Linked DNA regions of Homo sapiens. The protein of the gene in region 4 purifies or fractionates together with the protein of the main gene of each other region. This does not show direct contact. Each region holds a gene or a part of one and is shown on either strand. Other genes may lie near its edges.

The links. The genes of interacting proteins can lie anywhere in the genome.
Region 1: the proteins of DNAAF5 (region 4) and ACTR3 fractionate together in Homo sapiens (co-fractionation; one large-scale study listed by BioGRID). This does not show direct contact.
Region 2: the proteins of DNAAF5 (region 4) and XPO6 fractionate together in Homo sapiens (co-fractionation; one large-scale study listed by BioGRID). This does not show direct contact.
Region 3: the proteins of DNAAF5 (region 4) and GFPT1 fractionate together in Homo sapiens (co-fractionation; one large-scale study listed by BioGRID). This does not show direct contact.

Annotation. Positions count from the first base shown.
Region 1 is NC_000002.12:113,959,004-113,964,131, reverse strand, and holds the end of ACTR3 (actin-related protein 3), read right to left. Parts: 3' UTR 1,536-5,128; downstream 1-1,535. UniProt on the Homo sapiens protein: ATP-binding component of the Arp2/3 complex, a multiprotein complex that mediates actin polymerization upon stimulation by nucleation-promoting factor (NPF).
Region 2 is NC_000016.10:28,109,923-28,115,050, forward strand, and holds part of XPO6 (exportin-6), read right to left. Parts: intron 3,129-5,128; coding exon 2,982-3,128; intron 2,085-2,981; coding exon 1,895-2,084; intron 1-1,894. UniProt on the Homo sapiens protein: Mediates the nuclear export of actin and profilin-actin complexes in somatic cells.
Region 3 is NC_000002.12:69,337,685-69,342,812, forward strand, and holds part of GFPT1 (glutamine--fructose-6-phosphate aminotransferase [isomerizing] 1), read right to left. Parts: intron 4,566-5,128; coding exon 4,468-4,565; intron 882-4,467; coding exon 761-881; intron 372-760; coding exon 214-371; intron 1-213.
Region 4 is NC_000007.14:777,071-782,198, reverse strand, and holds part of DNAAF5 (dynein axonemal assembly factor 5), read right to left. Parts: intron 2,247-5,128; coding exon 2,055-2,246; intron 1-2,054. UniProt on the Homo sapiens protein: Cytoplasmic protein involved in the delivery of the dynein machinery to the motile cilium.

The DNA.
Region 1 (5,128 bases), on a different chromosome or scaffold from region 4:
CTTCCATCTCTTGGCTAAATGTCTCAAAAAGTCGTTTGTCAACTTTGTGAAACAGGTCAAAGGCATGTTGCTACTTCAATTTCAAAAAGAATACTAGAATACTAATGACGGAATGAAAAATCTTCCACTTGGGGTTTAAGAAGTCATTTCTCCTTGAGGGGAAAATACGTAACACCATTTCATTCATTGTTCTAGTGCCCTGAGGAATACTGCCCACAGAGTTGCAACCTCCCACTTTATAGAGGTGAAGATAGATAAATAGACAAAGACAGTACTGCCCAGACCAAATAATGCTATTTCTTTTGAGATATACCAGTGGCAGGGGACTCCACAGACATTCAACTCAGATGTTATCTAAAGGTGAGATCACTAGCAGATCTCTGAGCTTGAGGTCATTAAAACATATATAGACATATAACGGCTGCTCCATTTTTTCAATGGACCATCTTAAAAGGAAGATAACTTTATTCAACAAATGTTTAAGCATCTGCCACATGCCAAGCATTGTATTTTATAACATCATTACAAACTTCCCTTTTATTTGTAGCCTAAAAATGTTTTACCAGTCTTCAAAAGCCAAGTGAGGTACTTTCTAATTCATAAAAGATCCACTTAGGTCACTGGCAAGTTGAACTTTCAGCATTAGTGAAATCAGAAACGAGGTACACAAACTTAGCACCAATGTGGAGATACATAGCCAAAATGTGAACGACCTCAAGTATGCCCCGTGGAGAAGCTAAATTAGGCAGTCTGAAATCCCCATAGTTTTTCTGTATATGGAATGTCGTTTTTAAGAGCTCATTGCCTATTCATAAAGTCCAATCCAATCTCAAAAAGACTGCTGAGTTTTAGGCTCCTTCCTTAGTTCAGCACATTAGCCTGGTAACTATCTGGTAACTATAGTATCAGACATGACTTGGTCATCTGATACCTCCCTCTAGTAGTCTAGCACAGGAATCTTGCTATCAGCTTTCCCAATAGAATGAGTCAGAGAAGCTAAGAAATGTTGCCAAATTAATTTTGAAAAAAATTTAATAAACCATATGCTATTCAGTAAAATATCAAAAAAATTATAACCAGTAAGTTCTATTCTGCAACTACCTGTGTGGTCTTTGCAAAGTCACTTTTCCACAATGTTATTTATGTCAATCATGTGTGTGATTTCACCCTGAACTGCATCAACTTTTTTAGCCAATGTTTGTGTTTGAGGGTGTGTTTGAAGGTGTCAGATATCCTTCAGTCTTCTCTCCCACTCTTCTCCTCACTTCTCCTAATCACAATATTCTAATCCCCTCCCCAATTGCTGTAACTCAAGTTGCTTCTGCCATATCTAAAATATCATCCCCACCTACTCTCCATCTACTAAAACATTCATCTTTCAAGGTTTGGGCTAAGAAAAATCAGTCTACTGCAGTAGAAACTACCCCACTAGTGCTTTAGTCATCTCATGAATGTATACATTATTCCAACTAATCATTTTAGCATTTAAAACAAGTCTCAGATTTTCTTGTTGCTCAGGAATTTATTTGGGAAAGATCCCATGTACCCACAATAAGAAAAAGATGTGTGGTTCCAATTCCGATATCGACTTTCTAATATAATTCCAAATAAGATTAACAATTTACTGCAACCTTGAATCTTATTAATTAAAAATGGAGGAAGTTTAGAATTAAGTCATCTCTAAATCAAGTGGTTTAACATGGGATCTGGACAATATCAAAATTGATCAATAAAAGCCAGAGGGAGAAATGAGGCCTGTTTCTACTGTTAATGTTGAATGTTACATTTCAGGACATGTCAATTACCTTGTACAACAATCTGATTTAGAGCCTGTGATCATTTACACTACAGAGATTTTGAAATGACTGAAGGCTTAGATAATTATTTAAGACCTGCTTCAGAAAAGTCATGATCACTTAGTAATCCCCCACTACCTTACGCAGAATGTCACTTCTAAGGTAGAAACTAGTGGAACAGAAAAAAAGTCGTAATTCGGTCATATTTGACAAATATGGGTATTTTGAAGGAACAAAAGTTGTATACTCATGTAATTCAAAGTTTTATTTTAACATGAAAAATAATTTTTACTCATTCATTCATCAAACACATCCACTAAACTACTATATGCCAAGCAATATGTCAGGCACTGGAAATATGAAATGAATAAAGCAGATGCTACTGTCGAATTACTTTCATCTGTTGTTGGATGTAACACTTAGGTAAAAATTTTAGGAGCAAAGTACTAATTTTTAAACAATAGATCCACTTTTATAAGCCCCACTTTCACCTTACATAGCTGGACTTCTCCCTCTAAACAACTAACACTACCATTTTTATGAAGAGAAATTCCGCACTTACTATCTCTCAAATCTTATCTAGGCAAAATATTTGTCCCTCCTCTAAGAGTGCCTTTACTATTAGACTAAGCCAAGGACAGAATATTTATTCATCTTTATGCACAGTACTTGAACCACAGTAGACAGTCAATCAATGCTTCTGGGATTGAAGGCTCAAAACTTGATGCAATATATAGGTAATATAAGTGAATGTTGGTGCTTGAATAAAAGAGAAACTTTATTTTAATTCAGCATCTTAGTTTTAATGTAATTATAAAAGTCACCAAAAATTGACAGAACACTAGAAAACAAGTAATTGCTAAATCAAAATAGAATATCGTATACTTTTAATCTTTCATTTTTTTTCTTTCAGGTTTTTCAGTTGCCTTCTTTCCTAGATCACGTATTTCTATCGTTGTTCCTTTTTTATTGTTCCTGTGACCACTGGAGCACTAGTAATAAATCCTTAACTCAAATAGGTTATATTTAATTTCAGCACCCAAGCTCCAAATGCATCAGCTAAACTGGGTTATAGCATGGAGAATACCTCAGACGACCACAGATTTTATTTTTGTTAAGATTCTATCAAGACTGAGGCAAATTATAATAAAAGTTCTCATATCATAGAAAACAAATTACGTGGAAAAGGATAAACATTTATACAGTACTGAAGCGTTATCAACAATGAGTAGCAGAAATTCTTTTTCACTGAAGTCCAAAAGCCATCCCAGCCCTCCAGCAGATCTAAAGATTCTTGCTAAAGGTCAATTCAGGATATAGACCTAATACAAGAACAAGGTATTTACTGTCAAGATTTGCTATGAAAGTTCCACGTAACTTGTAACAACTCTGTCCTTGGCCAACTATATATACAAGGTGCTGTTACAATGAAATATATTTTAAGGCACAGTATTCCAAACTGAGTAGAACATTTTGCTCCCAGAGTCTGCACAGATTTTGGATTATTTATACCAGCTAATAGAATTAGTACCAATTAACCCGAGTTGGAAATCTGGGTGGTAACAGACTTCAGAGGGCTATCCAAGGTACTCATGCCTGGTGACTATGAACTACGAAAGATCAGAAAGAATGGGTCACAGGAATCAAGGTTGAGCTGGTAAGAAAAGGGGGAAAAGACTGGACTTCAGTATTGACAGATTAGCCCAGAATGAAGAGGAACAAAAACATCCTTTACTATGGTACAAATAAGCTTTATAACACAAATAATCTTCTCAATAATTTTATAAACATTCTAGTATCATCTTTAGGGTTATCTGAAAGAAGTTTCTATAGATATATTCTCTAGTACTTTTCTGTAGAAATTAAAAATAAAGATCATAATTGGCCTATTATCCCTGTATTTCATATTATTTCTAAAAATATTCCTAGAAATATCTGCAAGAATAGTTATTTTAATCTTTTAAGTAGCTGTGAAAACAAACCAAAAAATTGTATTGGGGGGTCTGAATAACCACTTTATCTCCTATAGAAAAGAAGATAGGTAAGAAGAGGATGAGTACTTATAGTAGGTGCCATGAATTAATGTCTAAGGGTGAAGATGTGAAATTTGCTCACTTTTTGAAAAGCAGGCATCAAGTTAGATAATGATCATTGATTTTATTTGTCCATTACTATTTCCCACTTGATCAAAGCACTGCCTATTAAAAAGGATAAATCAGATAATACCTTTACTACCACTAATGAATCAATAGAAAAGGCTAGGTTTTGCAGTCAGAATCTACTACACTGCTAATATTGCTATTAATAAGCTACATTATATTCTAACAACTCAAAGAAATTGCAGGATAATCCAGTATAATGCCTTTACCTTATATATAAATTGAATCAAGGTCCAGAGAGTTCAAATAATTTGTCCAAAATAATACAAATATATTTTCCAAGTTTTAACAAAAAACAAAGTTCGAGGAGCTATATCATCAATTATCAGAATCAGAATTAAAAATTAAATCACTGGCTTCAGTTAGTGCTTTTGCTACCATGCTCACGTTGCTTGATATCTAATCAATGTTACAGACTATTTAGTTCACCTTGGCCAACCTCTACATATTTCCAGCTGAAGTTGCTTTAAGTTGAAAAAACGGTATACAATCACAGAGGAGAGATATAAAGAAACAAGAATGCTGCTACCATCCTATTAGGGTTCACTCCTCTAAAAGTAGAGCAAAGGGATATCAGAACATACACAAGAAGGGCTGGAGTTTTGTTTCCCCAAATAAGTTAAGCGTAAGCTTCAAGAAAGTTTTTGATCTTCATGTTTTTGTAGCAAACAGTTAAGAACATCTCTGTATAAATATGCCTGAGATTGTCATCAAATAGCTTTATAAACATGTCTTTCTAGCTTATTCACTTAACTACCCAACCATCGCCGGTGGAAAAGACATATTTATGACAATGCTAACAATATTTTATTGGGCCAGGAGCATGACATCTTTACTGCTTATCAATATAGTTCTTTATCAAAAGATCTTTAATAAAAGCAAAGTGCAGAACAGTATATACAGTAAGTTCCTATTTGTGTAAAATAAGAAAGCTACATTTATTTCTACCTACACAGAAAATTACAATACAAGGACATCTAAGACATTCCAAGTAGTCTGTGTAATGATGGAAAAATGAGACAGGCTAGGGAAAAAAACTTACTTTTGCTAATCTACTCTTTGGTACTGTTTGAATAGTATTTTTATAATGTTTGTGAATTACTTTTCCAAGTAAAAAAAGGAGACCTTTGATACTGATGATGATACTACTGTAGGATATAGTTTGTCTTTTAC
Region 2 (5,128 bases), on a different chromosome or scaffold from region 4:
TTAAGAAAAAGTGTGTTGCAGAAAAAAGCATAAATGTGGCAAAACATTCACAATTAGTGAATCTGGGTGAGAGAGATGCAGTTGTTCATTTTCTTATTCCTTTGGCTAGTCTGTAGGTTTGGAATTTTTTTTTTTCAAAGTATAAAGTTGAGATAAGAAAAATGAAACTTTCCAACCTTAATTTCAACACTGTGGAATGAGGATAAGACATACCTCACAGGGTTACAGGGTTACACAGGAAGTTACATGAAATAACGTATACAAAGTGCTCAACCCAGTGCCTGCACACAGTCAGCATACTGAAGACGTCATTCACATACTACACTGCAAACCCTTTCAGCACACAGTGGCATCACACCTCCCTGCCCTCTGAGTTAAGCCAAGGCCATGTAGCTGGCTCTGGCCAAGGAAATAGAGGTGGAAGTAGTGTTAGTTTCAGGCAAGACCTTTAAGAACCACTACGCAATTCACCACAATCCCTTCCAGAGTGAACACACTGAAATGGAGCCTTCCACAGCCTGGGTCCCTATGTGACCTCCCCACTCTGCTGACCCAAGCTGGACATATAGTACAAACAACATATCCTTTTTCTTCTTGTATTAAGCCACTACACTTTTGGAGTTGTTTGTTACCACTGAGCATATCCTCGCCCATGCAGACCAACATAACTCCCATGTAAGATAAAGTGCGGAAAGGAGACCATTACACGTGATAAAGCATGACTCCACAACAGCTGGATGCAAGCCCTGGGCAAGTTCCTTAATCTTCTAGACCTCAGCTTCCTCATGCTAATCATCAATCAAGATCCTAACAGTACCGAACTCATAAGGCTAATGTAAGAACTGAATGAATTACTGATTTTTGAAAAATACTTAGAACCAGGAAGAGACCAACACCAGACTTTGAAAGTTGATACTGGCATAGCCAGAGACTTGACGATGGATATAGAATCACCAAGGCAAGAGCCTAGTACACAGTATACCCTCAATATGTCAGCTACTCTCATCCAGCTATGTAACCATGAAGCATATTTTAAAATAGAAAAGGGAAGGTAAGAAGGAAGCATGGTTAAAATGGTTACTTTCTAAAATATTAAAACTGGTCAGATTTAGGAGTTACTTTTTCCTTCTTTGTATTATTCTATTTTAATGTATTTGTACAATGCACATATGTTAATCTTCCTAGTTATAAAAGTAGTGTTTTTTAAAGAGTATAGTATTTATTACTATTTCTGACATTTCACAAAGCATTTTTGCTGACATTCCATAAATGGCACCATCTAATAATGTTCTATTATTTTCTTTTTGTGAAAGGAGCTCGTATTTTTAAAATATTTCGGTACTATTTGTTATTTCAAAGAGATATTTCCTTATTCATTTTTTTCCCTCTTTCTTTAATATAAACAAGCAAACTTCAAGTGCCATTTTTTAAGAAACTAAGCTCTTTCAAAACCTCTGGAAGATCTGTATTTGGAAAAAGGTTGAAACCAATCTGGAAAAATAGTTCTTGAGCGCATTTTCCCAGCGTGTAGAGGTGAACTGCTTTGTTTGCCTACACAAGCATCTGAAATAGATCAATAACCACCTTAAGATGTATTTTATAGACAGAAGGCACCATCACCAGTGTCTTCCATTTTTTCTTAGGGCTCCAGCATTTTTTACATTTTAAATAAGAGAAGGGACAGTTTGATTCTGGAAATAGGTCTGGCTGCTGTCTTAACTGAATTCCAAAGGTAGCAGGATCCCACCCCCAAGTATGACTTCCTGCTCAGCCTCTGTGGGACTATGAACAAAAAAAATTTACCTCAGGAGCCTCCGGGGCAAATCTCATCTGCCACAAAGAACAATGCCTGCCTACCTCCTTCCCCAGCTGTCCTAGCCTAGGGGTCACTTACTGTCATCCAGTGGCATCTTTCTCTGTGGGGCAACAGCACTGGGCTTCAGGTTGCGATAGTCCCGGGAGAGTGCAGAGATGAGGCTGGCGTGGTTGATGGAGCGCACGGGCCACTGCTGCTCATTCTCTGGAAGGTTTGGCCACGGAAGCAGCAAGATGTTAGAGAGGGCTCGGCACACCAACACCTGGGCCTACAAGAGACCCCAAAGGCATCCATCAGAGGTCAGAGCCAAAGACCGTGGTGCGGCATGCCCAACACAGCCTTCAGCACCCGCTGGCTGCACACCTGGAACCCTAGCCCCCAGGCTCGTTTCTTGCAACCTGGGCAAGGCCTTTGGTCCAACTGGAAGGCAACTTAGGGAGGAAGATGAAATGAAGTAATAGCACCATGTCTAGGTCTAGCATAACCCAGAGCTAACCTCTCGTTTCCTCTCTAATCTGATACTTGAAGTATTAGAGAGGGAAAAATCACACTGCAGACACTGAATCTCAGGCATTGTTCAGCTGGTGGCTTCTGAGTCCTCTGAGAAGCTACTTAGAGCAGGACTTGCAGGAGAATCCGTGACAATCCATGCCCCTAGCACCAGGTCACATCCTGCAATCACATCCTGGTGCCCTCTGGTACCCTCTTCAAACCTTCCTGCCCTCCCTCCTGTTAGGTGGTTTTTAAACTTCTAGCTTGAGCCTCCTTTGAGGATTCTAAGAAAATGCACTTGCCTGGCACTTCTCAACCCCAAAGAACACACACAGAACAGTGACAACAAAAACCAGACTGCTTTGAATCAGAAAGAATGCAAAGAGAATTCTCACAACACTGGCCGAAATTACCAGGCTGCAAAGCAGCAAAACCTTTCTGCACACTGGGAGGTGCTTTTCCACGCCTCAATCAGCACACTGACTGCCTGCCTTAGAATGGGCACGATGAGAATCACTGAGTCTGTGTCAGTGCCACACAATAAGAAATCTGTCTATGCTGGTACAGCCTGTAAGCTCTGAGTACAAAATCAAAGGCCAGACTCTTCTTCCTCAGCTTCCTTGGGTCTCAGTCACACAGCCCTGGGGACCCCGGGGGAGCTCTGGGGCCTCACCTTATCGACAAGTCGCAGGGCAGAGGCATCAGTGATTCTGTTGAATACTTTCTGCACTGCAGGGATGCTGATCAGAAAGACGGGCCGCACGGTGGTGGCCAGTGAGACCAGTAAGTGGCACGCAGATAGCAGCAGCTTGTCTTGGACCTGCAGAGGGAAGAGGGCACGTCAGCTCACCACATCCCTGTAAGACTGGGATTCGAACTTTGCTGAGGCAGCCACAAGCTATGTGTCATTCTTGGTTTCCAAATTACACCACCTAGGCCCTATCTAGCTCAAGAATTTTTCCTATGATGACTACAAGAGAAGCCCATCTTCTCTGTCATGTCCACAGCTCCTGCCGCAGCCATTATCACCTCCTCCCGTTCCTCCTTCACAGTCACCAGCAGCCTTGAACTCAGGCACTTCTCAGCTTAGAGTCTGCAGTGGCTCCCTATCAGCTATTAAATCACACTCCCTGGCATGTCATCCAGGTCCTAGAATTCTTCACCTCACTAATTGTTCCAGCAGAGCCAAGATCTCCCCGAGCCCCCGACTCTTCTGTGCCTTAACACTCAGGCCAGTCTCTCCTACTGCTTTCCCTTCAGCATGCCTATCAAATACTTGGTTCAATTACCACTGTTGCTTTCAAATTAGCAAAGGAGAAAAACGTGTTACAGATGGGACCTAATGCTGGTAAGACTAAGATAAAAACAGCACACCAAAAAGTCAAGGCAGGCAGAATTACTTCGGGAAAAAAATTACTATGATTTCCCAAAGTCACAAAATATTCCTAACCTTTAACCCTTACTCTAAGATTACCTATAACCTATAATACTTACTCTAAGAAGATTACCTAAAAGGGTAAAGCTACATTCATGAATGTGTGCATTTCAGAATTCTTTATAATTTTTTATTTTTTAAGGGAGGCAGCCTAGAAGTCCAGCAATGGCTAGGAAAATAATGAAACATATTCCTGATGGGATAGGACTATTTTCAAAGTTATAATTATAAATACAACATAAATTTATGGAAAGCAACACATTGTTATTAAAACAATACACTGTTTAAAAATGTATAAAATGTTATGTATGACTAAAACTACAAAAAAATTCAAAGAATAAACACATATATGCTCTAGTAATATAGCAGACTTGGAGGATAACATAATAGAATCTGTCCAGTTTTAACATGGATATAACCTTTGACTCAGTAATTCCACTTCCAGGAATCTATCCTTCAGGCCCACTAGCATATGTAAGATGGACATAAAAGGAACTCATTTCTAGCAATAGGAAAATTATTATACATCCTCACAAAAAAAAAAAAAAAAAACCACTGGACATTTTGACAATCTGAAGTTGCTGTACATATGTAAAGGAAAATGAAGGCATACTGTTAGGCAAAAGCAGCTATATCTCCAGCTATCTACAAACTTAGTTATTACTTATTACATAAAAAGAGAAAAAAGTCTGGAAGGATATACAGGCATACCTCAGAGATACTGCAGGTTCAGCTCCAGACCACCACAATAAAGCAAATTATGCAATAACGCAAGGCACACTAATTTTTTTGTTTCCCAATGCATATGTTTTGTTTACACTATAGTCTATAAAGTGTGCAATAAGCATTATGTCTAAGAAAACAATGTACATATCTTAGTTAAAAAGTAGTTTATTGCTAAAAATGCTAACAATCATCTGAGCCTTCAGAGCGGTAATCTTTTTGCTGGTGAAGGGTCTTCCTTGAAAGTGACTGCTGCTGACTGAACAGGGTGGTGGTTGCTCAAAGTTGGGGTGGCTGTGGCAATTACTTAAAATAAGACAACAATGAAGTTTGCTGCATCGATTGACTTCCTTTCATGAAATATTTCTCTGGAGCATGCGGTGCCGTTTCATAGCATTTTGCCCACAGTAGAACTTCTTTCAAAGTTGGAGTCAGTCCTCTCAAACCCTGCTGCTGCTTCATCAACTGAGTTTATGTGTTATTCTAATCCTCTGTTATTTCAACAATGTTCACAGCATCTTCACCAGTTGATTCCATCTCAAAAACCCACTTTCTTTGGTCATTTACAAGAAGCAAGTCCCCATCTGTTCAAGCTTGATCCTGAGATTGCAGCAATTCCATCCCATCTTCAGACTCCGCCTCTAGTTCTCCTGTTATTTCCA
Region 3 (5,128 bases), on a different chromosome or scaffold from region 4:
AGAGAATGACAAGTCTTTTATCTATCTGACCCTAAAGTCCTACAATAATTACAATGATTAGTAAAATGTGTGAGTTCTATAACTGCTAACAAAAATAAAATGTGTGAGTTCTATAACTGCTAACAAAAATAAGATACAGACTAGTCTACAGACTAGTCTGCTTCACTGACACTATGATTAAATAATCATCAGAGAAATGAGTCAAGAATTTACCTTTGTACTGGCCACACCAATCTCAGGACCAGCATTAATATGAACTCCACAATCTGTCTCCCGTGATATGGAACTGCCAACTGTGTTTGTGATCCCCACAGTTAAAGCTCCTCTCTCCTTACAGTAACGAAGACCCATCAAAGTATCTGCTGTCTCACCTGTGTAAAAAGTAGGCCAACCATAACACACAGAACAGTTTTAACATATGCTGTTTCTTAGGAGCAAAAACAAATTGACCACACTTTCAACAATATTACTTGTTTTAAATAAAATACAAAACATCCACTTAATAAATTTATAAAACTTTAAGTAATATGGCTTGTCAGGATCTCTCTTCCTTCTCTGTCATTGAAAATCCAGCTCTTTGAACACAAAAGGTGTTCATTTTTACTAATTCATAAAGAATTATGTAACATTAAAATAAATCTGTATTCGTCAAGTCATCTGCAATGCCAGTTTATCTTTAAATATCAGCTTTTGCCAAGATATGCTAGAATTATTAGAAAGAATAACTTTCCTTCCTTTTAAGTCTTTAAAATTAACACACCTGATTGACTAAGGAAAAAGCAAACATCATCTCGAAAGACTGGTGTGTTTCTGTCCAGGAAGTCACTTGCTAGTTCCACCATCACAGGCAACTCAGTCAGCTCCTCAAGAACTTGACGTGTCTGCAGAGAAAATATGACTTGGTCACAGAACTTTCCTTCAAATACTCTTTCATCGGACTTCTTTGGATTCAATGTATAGTTTTTGCTTTTTCTGATTACAAAAATGACACGTTAGAAAATAAAAACAACCCAGATTAAAATATTTAAAAAAAAAAAATCAAAATCCTACCACTTGAGATAAGCATGGCTAACATTTTACTATCAGTCTCTTTAGACAACTATCTATGTATACATTCCTTTTTTTTTTTTTTTTGAGACGGAGTCTCGCTCTGTCGCCAGGCTGGAGTGCAGTGGTGCCATCTCGGCTCACCGTAACCTCCGCCTCCCGGGTTCAAGCAATTCTCCTGCCTCAGCCTCCTGAGTAGCTGGGACTATAGGCGTGCGCCACCATGCCCAGCTTAGTAGAGATGGGGTTTCACCATGTTGGCCAGGATGGTCTCAATCTCCTGACCTCATGATCTGCTCGCCTCAGCCTCCCAAAGTGCTGGGATTACAGGCATGAGCCACTGCGCCTGGACACATACATTCTTATAAGGAAACATACCCACACATATAAAACGTTTTGAGAAGTGGAAAGAGCATGGTTCTGAGTCAGCTTGTGTGTTATCTCTAACCTCCCAATTCCTAATCTTTAAAATGAAAATTCATGTAATACCCATGTTAGGGAGGGGTTTCAAATCAGGTAACAGATGTACAAATATATAGAGAAAAATTAAACACTTTAAAAGTACAACGTATTCATAAATATGACCATTTCCCAAAAGAAGTCAATATATTTTAGAAATCTTGTTTAACAGGGCTCACTATTTTCAACTTTTGTGGCATGGGGCAGGGGGAATGAAGTAGGGAGCAGTATGCCTCTGTGCAAAACGTAGTTTAACCTTCATTTCAGTAAATTTCCATTCTAATTATTTTTACACTAAACATCGGAAAATCAAAAACAGAAAAATTATCTTTTAGGCAGCAAAAACTTTAAGCTCAACCAATGTATACATTTAGTGTTGCTTTAATTCTAACTGTGGAGCTCACCTAACCTGACAGCCTTTCACCAGCCTCTTCAGGCAAGTGGCCCTCCCCATCTCTCACCCATCTCAGCTTTCCTCCTTCTCAGCAATAAAGAACTTAAAGGTGCCCTTATTTCATAGCCCTTAACTTTTGCTTGCCCACAAATTTGAACAGAATCGTTTTACTTGGTTCCCCCAAAAATATTAAATAACTTTGATTTGGCATTTTTTAACAATATTACAACATCATGTAAAGAAAATCATTGAAGATAAAATGCTCCTATTTTTTATTATTCTTTTCCATTAATATATTTTATTATACATAATTAAGTTACCGACACTAAAATGCTAAATGTTTTCCCACAAATAAATGTAAACCAAACCTTTTCACCCAGTTTATAATATAAATGTTACATTGGAATCATATTCTTCAAAATAAAAAGATGGGGAAAGAAGAGAGAAAGATAGAAATCTGGAGGCTTACCAGATATTTAAAAGTAATAAACCCCAAAAAAGTAATCTCAAGATTTATCTGTGCTAATTAATAGTTTATTATTTTAGTTGGGGCAACTTTTTTTTTTTTTTTTTTTTTTTTGGTTAAAGATGGGGTCTTGGTTTGTTGCCCAGGCTGGAGTGTAGCAGCTATTCAGAGGCATGATTCTAGGGCACTGTGGCCTCAAATTCCTGGTCTCAAGTGATCCTCCTGCCCCAGCTTCCGAGGAGCTGGAACTATAGGCACACACCACTGCACCCAGCTGCGAACAACTTTTTATAAATACACAAAATGACATATTTCCATCACAATAGAGTAACTTAATGCTATAAATTCCACTGAATGCCACTACAAAACCTAGAGAAAATTAAAATTTTGAAAAGCATATTAAGTAGGCTATACTTAAATCATTTATGCCTAGTGTTCCATCACTGGAACGTTAAGCATGTGGGAGTTATTTATATCCTACTGCTCAAGGTCAGCACCAAGGTCTGATGATTTTTCACAAAAAAATTTTGCAACCTCTGGCATAAATGAGTTAAGAATGATTAGAGTGTAGTCAGTTATTCAGGATATAGATACTAAAAAAAAAACATGTAAATGTGTCATGAAACAACAACAAAAATGTAAAACAGGATAAAATAAATGGTACTATTTTGTCTGATAAACCACAGGGGGATTTCTAATGTTTGTTTACTACAGTAGTCTTGGCATCCACAAAACAACAAAAAATCTTACATTAGAGAATTCTAACAGAGTATATAATTTCTGCCCCCAAATTGTCTTAGCGTTAGATGAAGCGTTTAATCAAATTTTCTATTTCTGAATACAGGGCTCATTCAGTAATAGATCTAAGCCACCACTAACGTGTTTACATCTTTCTTCTTCCCGTGTTCAAAATTTTTTTTTTTTTTTGAGACAGGGCCTGGTTTTGTCGCCCAGGTTGGAGTTCAGCGGTGCAATCTAGGCTCACTGCAGCCTCACCTTCTGGACTCAAGCGATCCTCCTGCCTCAGCCTCCCAAGTAGCTAGGACTACAGGGAGTTGCCACCACACCCCGATAATTTTTTTTTTTTGGTAGAGACGGGGTCTCGCTATGTTGCCCAGGCTCAAACTCCTAGGGTCAACTGATCCTCCCACTTTGCCCTCCCAAAGTGCTGGGATTACAGGTGTGAGCCACAACACCCAGACAAAACAATCACTTTTTTAGACCTCTACCCTTCAACATTACATAGACTTTCTGTTTAGGACCATATAATTTTGGGGGAGGAGGGGAGGAGGTATTTGGTGTAGTCTTAGAAAAGAGCAAAGCTTGTTGAGATGCAAGGGCAGGTGACCAGATAGTTTCACTCACTGCTTAAATAAATGGCTCCTAATAAATATTTATGCCTCAGCAAATAAATAAGTTATGTCAGGAACTTTGGAAGTCAATCCTAAAAGCAGAAATTGAATGTAAAGGTCTTCTGTTCATAACAGTTGACATCAGCAACACATAAACTGTCTCTTTCTAAGGAAACTACGTGGGCAAATATTGGTCTTTTATTGGAATAAAAGACCCTCATACACCTATGCTTCTGCACTGACAATACACATTTTTGATACTGAATTTCAGCTTCTAAAAGAACAATTTAAAGAATAAAATCTGATTTAAAAAAAAAAGCAGACTACCTTTCTTTGCAGTAATGTGCCCACAAAGTAAAATTGCACTGAGGTTCACACATGATGCAGGCCATCTGTCTAGGGCAAGTGAACAATGCTAAGCAAAACCCAACGATGGCTCTTACACATGTAGGCAAGCTCCCTAGGCTACAAGTCTAGGACAGTACACAAACTCTCCCCCTCTTGGCCTTTCATGAAGTCCGTTGCAGGAGGTCTATCTGTATATCTAGGGACCTTTTCTACAGATCTTCCATGGATAAATAATTCCAAGCAGCTGGTAAATTTCTCCCCTTACCTTCTTTTTTTATCACAAAAGGGAAAAGATAACACATTAACAAAACATAGTTTTACACAGTATGTTATTAGACTACTACTTGGTCTACAGATATTCTCTAATATTCAACATAATTAAAATTTTAAAAAGCACTTACTGCTACACCAGCATGGTAACTTGTTCCACAAGCAATAAGAATCAAACGCCGGCATCTCTGGATCTCCTTTATGTGATCCTTCAAACCACCCAAATTCACTGAAATAAAAGTTTGTGTACATAATTATTTAGCAAAGAACCATGTGAACTAGGCAATCGCATTTTGTGAGTATCCACTGCCAATATGAGGAAGAATACTGCTGTTTTAAAGAATTAATATTCCTCTTGGAAAGCACAGTTCTCTGTAATTTTGAAAAGTAAATTAAATAAGTCACAACTTCACTGGCGCCCCCAAACTTGTAACTGACCTTACTCACCTCTCTACATCCCCACACAATTACAGTATTTATTACATTCTACCTTAGTTAGTTATTTTTACATTCTTCTCTTTGAAAGTTATCTTAAAGGCAAAAGTAGAGGGACACAGAAAACAGATCATTAGATGTAGAGGGCTGGAGCTGGAGGAGGGGTTGACAACAATAGGGTGCAAGGAAATTTTGGGAGTGATGGAACTGTTCTACATCTTGACTTTGTAGAGGTTATGATTATGACTATGTTGTAGAGGTTTGTCAAACTTAGAGTTATACACTAGGAATGGTGAATTTTATTATATCTAATTATGTCTCAATAAACCTGTCTGGGAAAAACATTATCTCAGTTAC
Region 4 (5,128 bases):
GAGTTTCTGACGCCGCGTGTCGGGAGGCGGCCACGCCGCGAAGATCCGAGTTTCTGACGCTGCGCGACGGGAGGCGGCCACACCAGGAAGATCCGACATCGCATAACCGGATGTAGCCACGCCGGGAAACCGGACGCAGCTGCGCGGGGAAGGTCTAAGTATTTTCCAAAGGAGGCAAAAGGCAAAGTCAGCACATCCAGGCCCAAAGCTTCCACACAGCAAAGGGAAGAATGAGCAGAGTACAGCCGCAGGGACAGCCCGCGGGTACGGGATGGGAGACTGTATCTTAGAACCGCCGCCTGACAAGGATTAATCACTGGAATATATGAGGAGCTCAGGCTCAATAGCAGACAATCTAATAATCCAATTAAAAATGGGTAAAAGACCTGAACAGACAGCTCTCAAAAGACAGCATGGAAATGACAAACAGGCGTCTGAAAAGGTGCCCACCACCACCGCTCCTCAGAGAAATGCACATAGAAACAAGTGAGACATCCTCTGACCCCAGTTAAAATGGCTGCGGAAACAAGTCCCGGCGCGGATGTGGAGACAAGGGAACCCTCACGCTGCTGGTGGGAATGTAAATGAGCACCGCTGGGAGAACAGTCTGGAGGTCCCTCCAAAACTAAAAATAGAGCCCCATACAGCCCGGCAATCCCACTTCTGGGCAAATACCCAAAAGAGAGGAATTCAGCTATGGGGGAGAGCTGCACGCGCACGCCGAATGCCCCACTGTTCCGACAGCCAAGGTGTGGAAGCAACCGGGGTGTCCACGGACAGATGAAGGGAGAAGGAAAACGTGGAGCGCACGCAGTGGAATATTATCCGGCCACAAAAGAAATGAGATCCAGTCATTGGATCAACATGGAGGGAAGTGGAGGTCGCTATGTTAAGTGAAATAAGTCAGGCACAGAAGGGCAAATTCCGCACATTCTCATTTGTGGGAACTAAAAATAAAAATAATTCAACTCATGGAGATAGAGCAGAAGGATGGCTCCCAGAGGCTCGGAAGAGGAATGGGGCCGGGGGAAGAGGTGGGGATGGTTAATGAGTACAAAAACAGAATGAGTAAGATTTAGTATTTGATAGCACAACAGGGTGACTATGGTCAACAATAATTTATCACACATTTAAACATAACGAAAAGTATCACTGAATTATTTGTAACACAAAGAAAGTGTAAGTGTTTGAAGTGACGGGGACCCCATTTCCCCAATGTGATTTACACACACTGCATGCCTGTATCACAGTATCACACATGCCTTATATACACCTATGTGTACCCACAAAAATTAAAAATACAAATTTTATTAAAAAAAAGAACAACGTCATTATATTCACCAACAACAAAACAAAACAAAAAAAAAAAAAAGAAAAAAAAAAGCAAATCGTTACATTCCAAGTGTGAGATGGACCAGCGGATTTTAATGCACTGAGCGTGGAAGGCTCTGTGGTGTGTGGCCTCAGGCCCTGTGCTGTGAGTGACCTTCAAGGGACGGCCTGTGTCGCTGTTGGCGTGGTATTGAAGAAGTCCCACGCCTATCTGAAAAGGCTACTAAAATACTCTTCTTTTGTCCAACTACACTTGAAGCCACAGGCGAGGCCAGATTATTTTCCACGTATTTCAGCCAGAGCCATACACATCATGACTGACTGTATGGAAGATGTGAAAGTCCAGTGTCTTCCATCAAGCTACACATTTAAGACATTTGCAAAAATCGTTCTTGCAGATGATTTTGTTTTGGAAAGTATTTTTCAAAAACACAAGCCATCTGTGTCAATATATACTGGGCTTACTATTGTTATTTTAAACAACTAACAAGTATTCTAGAATACTCTCAGTTTTGATTTCTGTTAGAGGAAATGTCAGCAGCTATCACCACAAAGACAGCCGCTCTCAGGGTTTGCCAAGAACTCAAGAGTGTGCCAGGCCGGAGCTGAGGCCCCTCCTGTGCCCCAGGGCCCTGTGGCCGGTCACACGGCTCAGCTACAGATGCCCGTGGCAGGCGCCGAAAGCAGGCATCGGAACGAAGGCCAAGCCGTCGGAGTCTCACCTAAAATTGCATCCTGGATGGCCCTCTCTGGATCGTCAAGGTGAACCAGCAACTCTCGGTACAGGTACTGGACACTGCTCTGATAGTAGGATTTTGCGTTGGCACCCTTGACACACTGCAGCCAGGTGACCAAGGTGGAGGCGGCTGCCATCCTCACATCGTTGGACACGTCATCTAGGCGTTTTAAGAGTTCTGGAAGGAGGGAGCGAGACAGGTGTGTGAGTCTAGAGCAGACATTTCACGTCTAAACGTCCACAAAGGCATTTAGTTCATACTCCCATGGGACACCTGCCCTGGGGTCCTAAGAAACCCACACCTCACGGGAGACTCCGTGCATCCCGAGCCACATGCAAGGTGCTCCTGGCGACCTGGGACCCCTGAACCCCAGCCAACAGAGTGGAGGCGGCCCAGGCCCTGCTGCGGCCCCTGTAATAACCTGTCCTGCAGGCGCAGAGCCTCCCTGTAGCTGTAGCTGTGTGCTCACCTGGTCCTCCACCTCCTCGCAGCTGTGTGCTCACCTGGCCCTCCACCTCCTGCTCCCAGATGCTCAGATCCCCGAGCTGGCCACCCTGCCCAGCTCTGACCCTGCCCTCCCACCAGAGCTGAGGACTCAGTGACAGACAACCCCCTACTGTGGTCAGTTTTCTGCTGCTGAAAACAGAAGGATGATCCTTCCCGATGGGTAGAAACTTATGAGGTTAATGGACATAATTTTTATCAAATTTATGCTTTTTTTACATCATCTTAAAAAAACTTTGGCACCCCCTTCTGTGCAGCATCCGGAAATTCGCAGATGACTGAGTCGCAAAACCACCCGGAGGCCCATCTTCCCGACGCTGGGAGGGGCAGCTGCCCATGCCTGGCATGAGGCCCATCTTCCCGACGCTGGGAGGGGCGGCTGCCCGCGCCTGGCACCAGGCCCATCTTCCCGCTGCAGACGCGAGGGTGGGCTGGGTCTCTGATGCTTTTGCAATGTGGAGGGCATGATCCACCCTCAGCAAGAGGATCCTATGTAACGAAAGGCATGAAAAACATCCAAAGTTCAGGCCATCCTACCAAGCCAGGCTTTGAGACAAGTGGGACCCAGTGGGTTAATTCCTGGCAGATGCCCAGGCACTTCCCTGAGGGTTCTGGGCCCTGAGGGTGCTGGGCCTTCCAGCCACCAAACACAGGCACCAAGGAGGAAGCCACGGAGCACATCCAGGCATTATGGTGCCAAACCCTGAAGCAGCCCTGCACGGCAGGTGCCCTCACTGCACAGCGGGTATGCTCACTGCACAGCGGGAGCCCTCGCTGCATGGGGGGTGCTTTTGCTGCATGGGGGGTATGCTCACTGCACGGCAGGTGCCCTCACTGCACAGGGGGTATGCTCACTGCACGGCGGGAGCCCTCGCTGCACAGTGGGTGCCCTCGCTGCACGTGTCTCAGGAGGAAGGACGGAGTCAGATGCTCAACTCACCCAAGCTTGTCCCGCTAGCAAACATCTATGGGCCCGGACAGGATCCTCCGAGGCCTCCTGCTGGCGCGGTCGACTATGGAAGTACACAGAGTGGCACTGGCTATTGTGTTTTTACGATGGTCACTCCCTGGATGGCCTGCAGGTCCACTTTTGTACCAGTTTAGGGTTCCTTTCATGCACGACTAAGCCAGGCAGAATCGGCTCACGCTGGCCTGTCTGCTGTTCATGTTTGTGTCTGTCTGTCCTGGGAGGCCTGGATGTCTGTGCTCCCAACTCAGGACATCCTTCCTTCCCCACCAAGGAGGCCATGATTCATCCAACACTTCACCCTGGGAAGCCCAGAGCTGGCACTAATAGGCAAGGGGCCTCTCAAGGAACCTTTTGTAGTGAAAATAAACAGGGGGCCGTGGCCCAGATGCCCAAATGCGCTCAGATGCCCAAACGCGTGCAGCCTTTCCGCCAGCTCCTGTTTTAAAAAGTGAGTGAATTCCCAACAATCGCATGGACTGAACTTGTTCCAGAGTCAGTGGGAACAGGATGTTTGTTACTAAAGAATAAAAACAGAAAAGCAAAGGTGAGAGAATGAGTGACAAAGGCCCCCGGACCTCAGAGTTCAGCAGGCGGCGGTTTTTCTGCCCAGCGCCGTGTGTACTGTGAATCTGAAAATTCATGTCTGTCTCCAGTTCTGGAAGATTCTGAGGCACCATCTCTCCTCCATTCTCTTCTCCTGGGATTCAGAAAAGCCCGGGAGCCTCTCGGCCCACTCGGCACCTCTCTCCATCCCGTGTCCTCTGCCCGCTCCAGGCCCCGCGTCCCTCCCCGTCCCGTGTCCTTCGCCCACTCCAGGCCTTGCACCCCTCTCTGTCTCGTGATCTTGAGGAATTCCACATTCCTGGCTTTCACGTCACTAACTTTGTTTTCAGCCACATTCAGTCTAGAGTTGACCCAGTACACAGAGTGTGAAGTTCCGATGACTCCATTCATTTCCGGGAATTAGCAAGAACCATCTTTTAAAAACTGCTAAACATTTCTGGCATAAATACACAAAATATAGATAATCACATTAAGTAGAGCTAATCAGGAACGCCTGAGTGGCCGCTTCCCGCCCACCCCATCCCCTTTCTCCCTCGCTGGGTAACTCCTTTCCTCAAAGTAGTGCCAGCACACCATTCCGTGTCACTCCGGACTTCCCAGCGATCGCTTCCGTTTCCATCTGTTCTTTATTCCTGCTTGTCTTCTTGTTTCTCAACTTGTTTTTTAGTGGATGTTGTTCTTTTAGCTTTTTGAGGATCTTAAACACGCCTCAATAAAGGTAACTTTGAGGTGGTTCTATTATCGGCACTTCCTTCCCGGGCTGGGTGCGAGGCTGCCCTTAGCGCCGGGTCTTCGGTGTTCTGAGGTAGCAGTCCCCAACCTTTTTGGCACCAGGGGCTGGTTTCATGGAAGACAATTTTCCATGGACCAGGGGGTGAGATGGTTTCAGGATGAGTCACGTGCGTTACGTTTATTGTACACGTTATTTCTATGACTACATTGTAACATATAATGAGATAATTCTACAACTCATCATCCTGTAGAATCAGTGGGGGCCTGAGCTTGTTTTCCTGCAACTAGA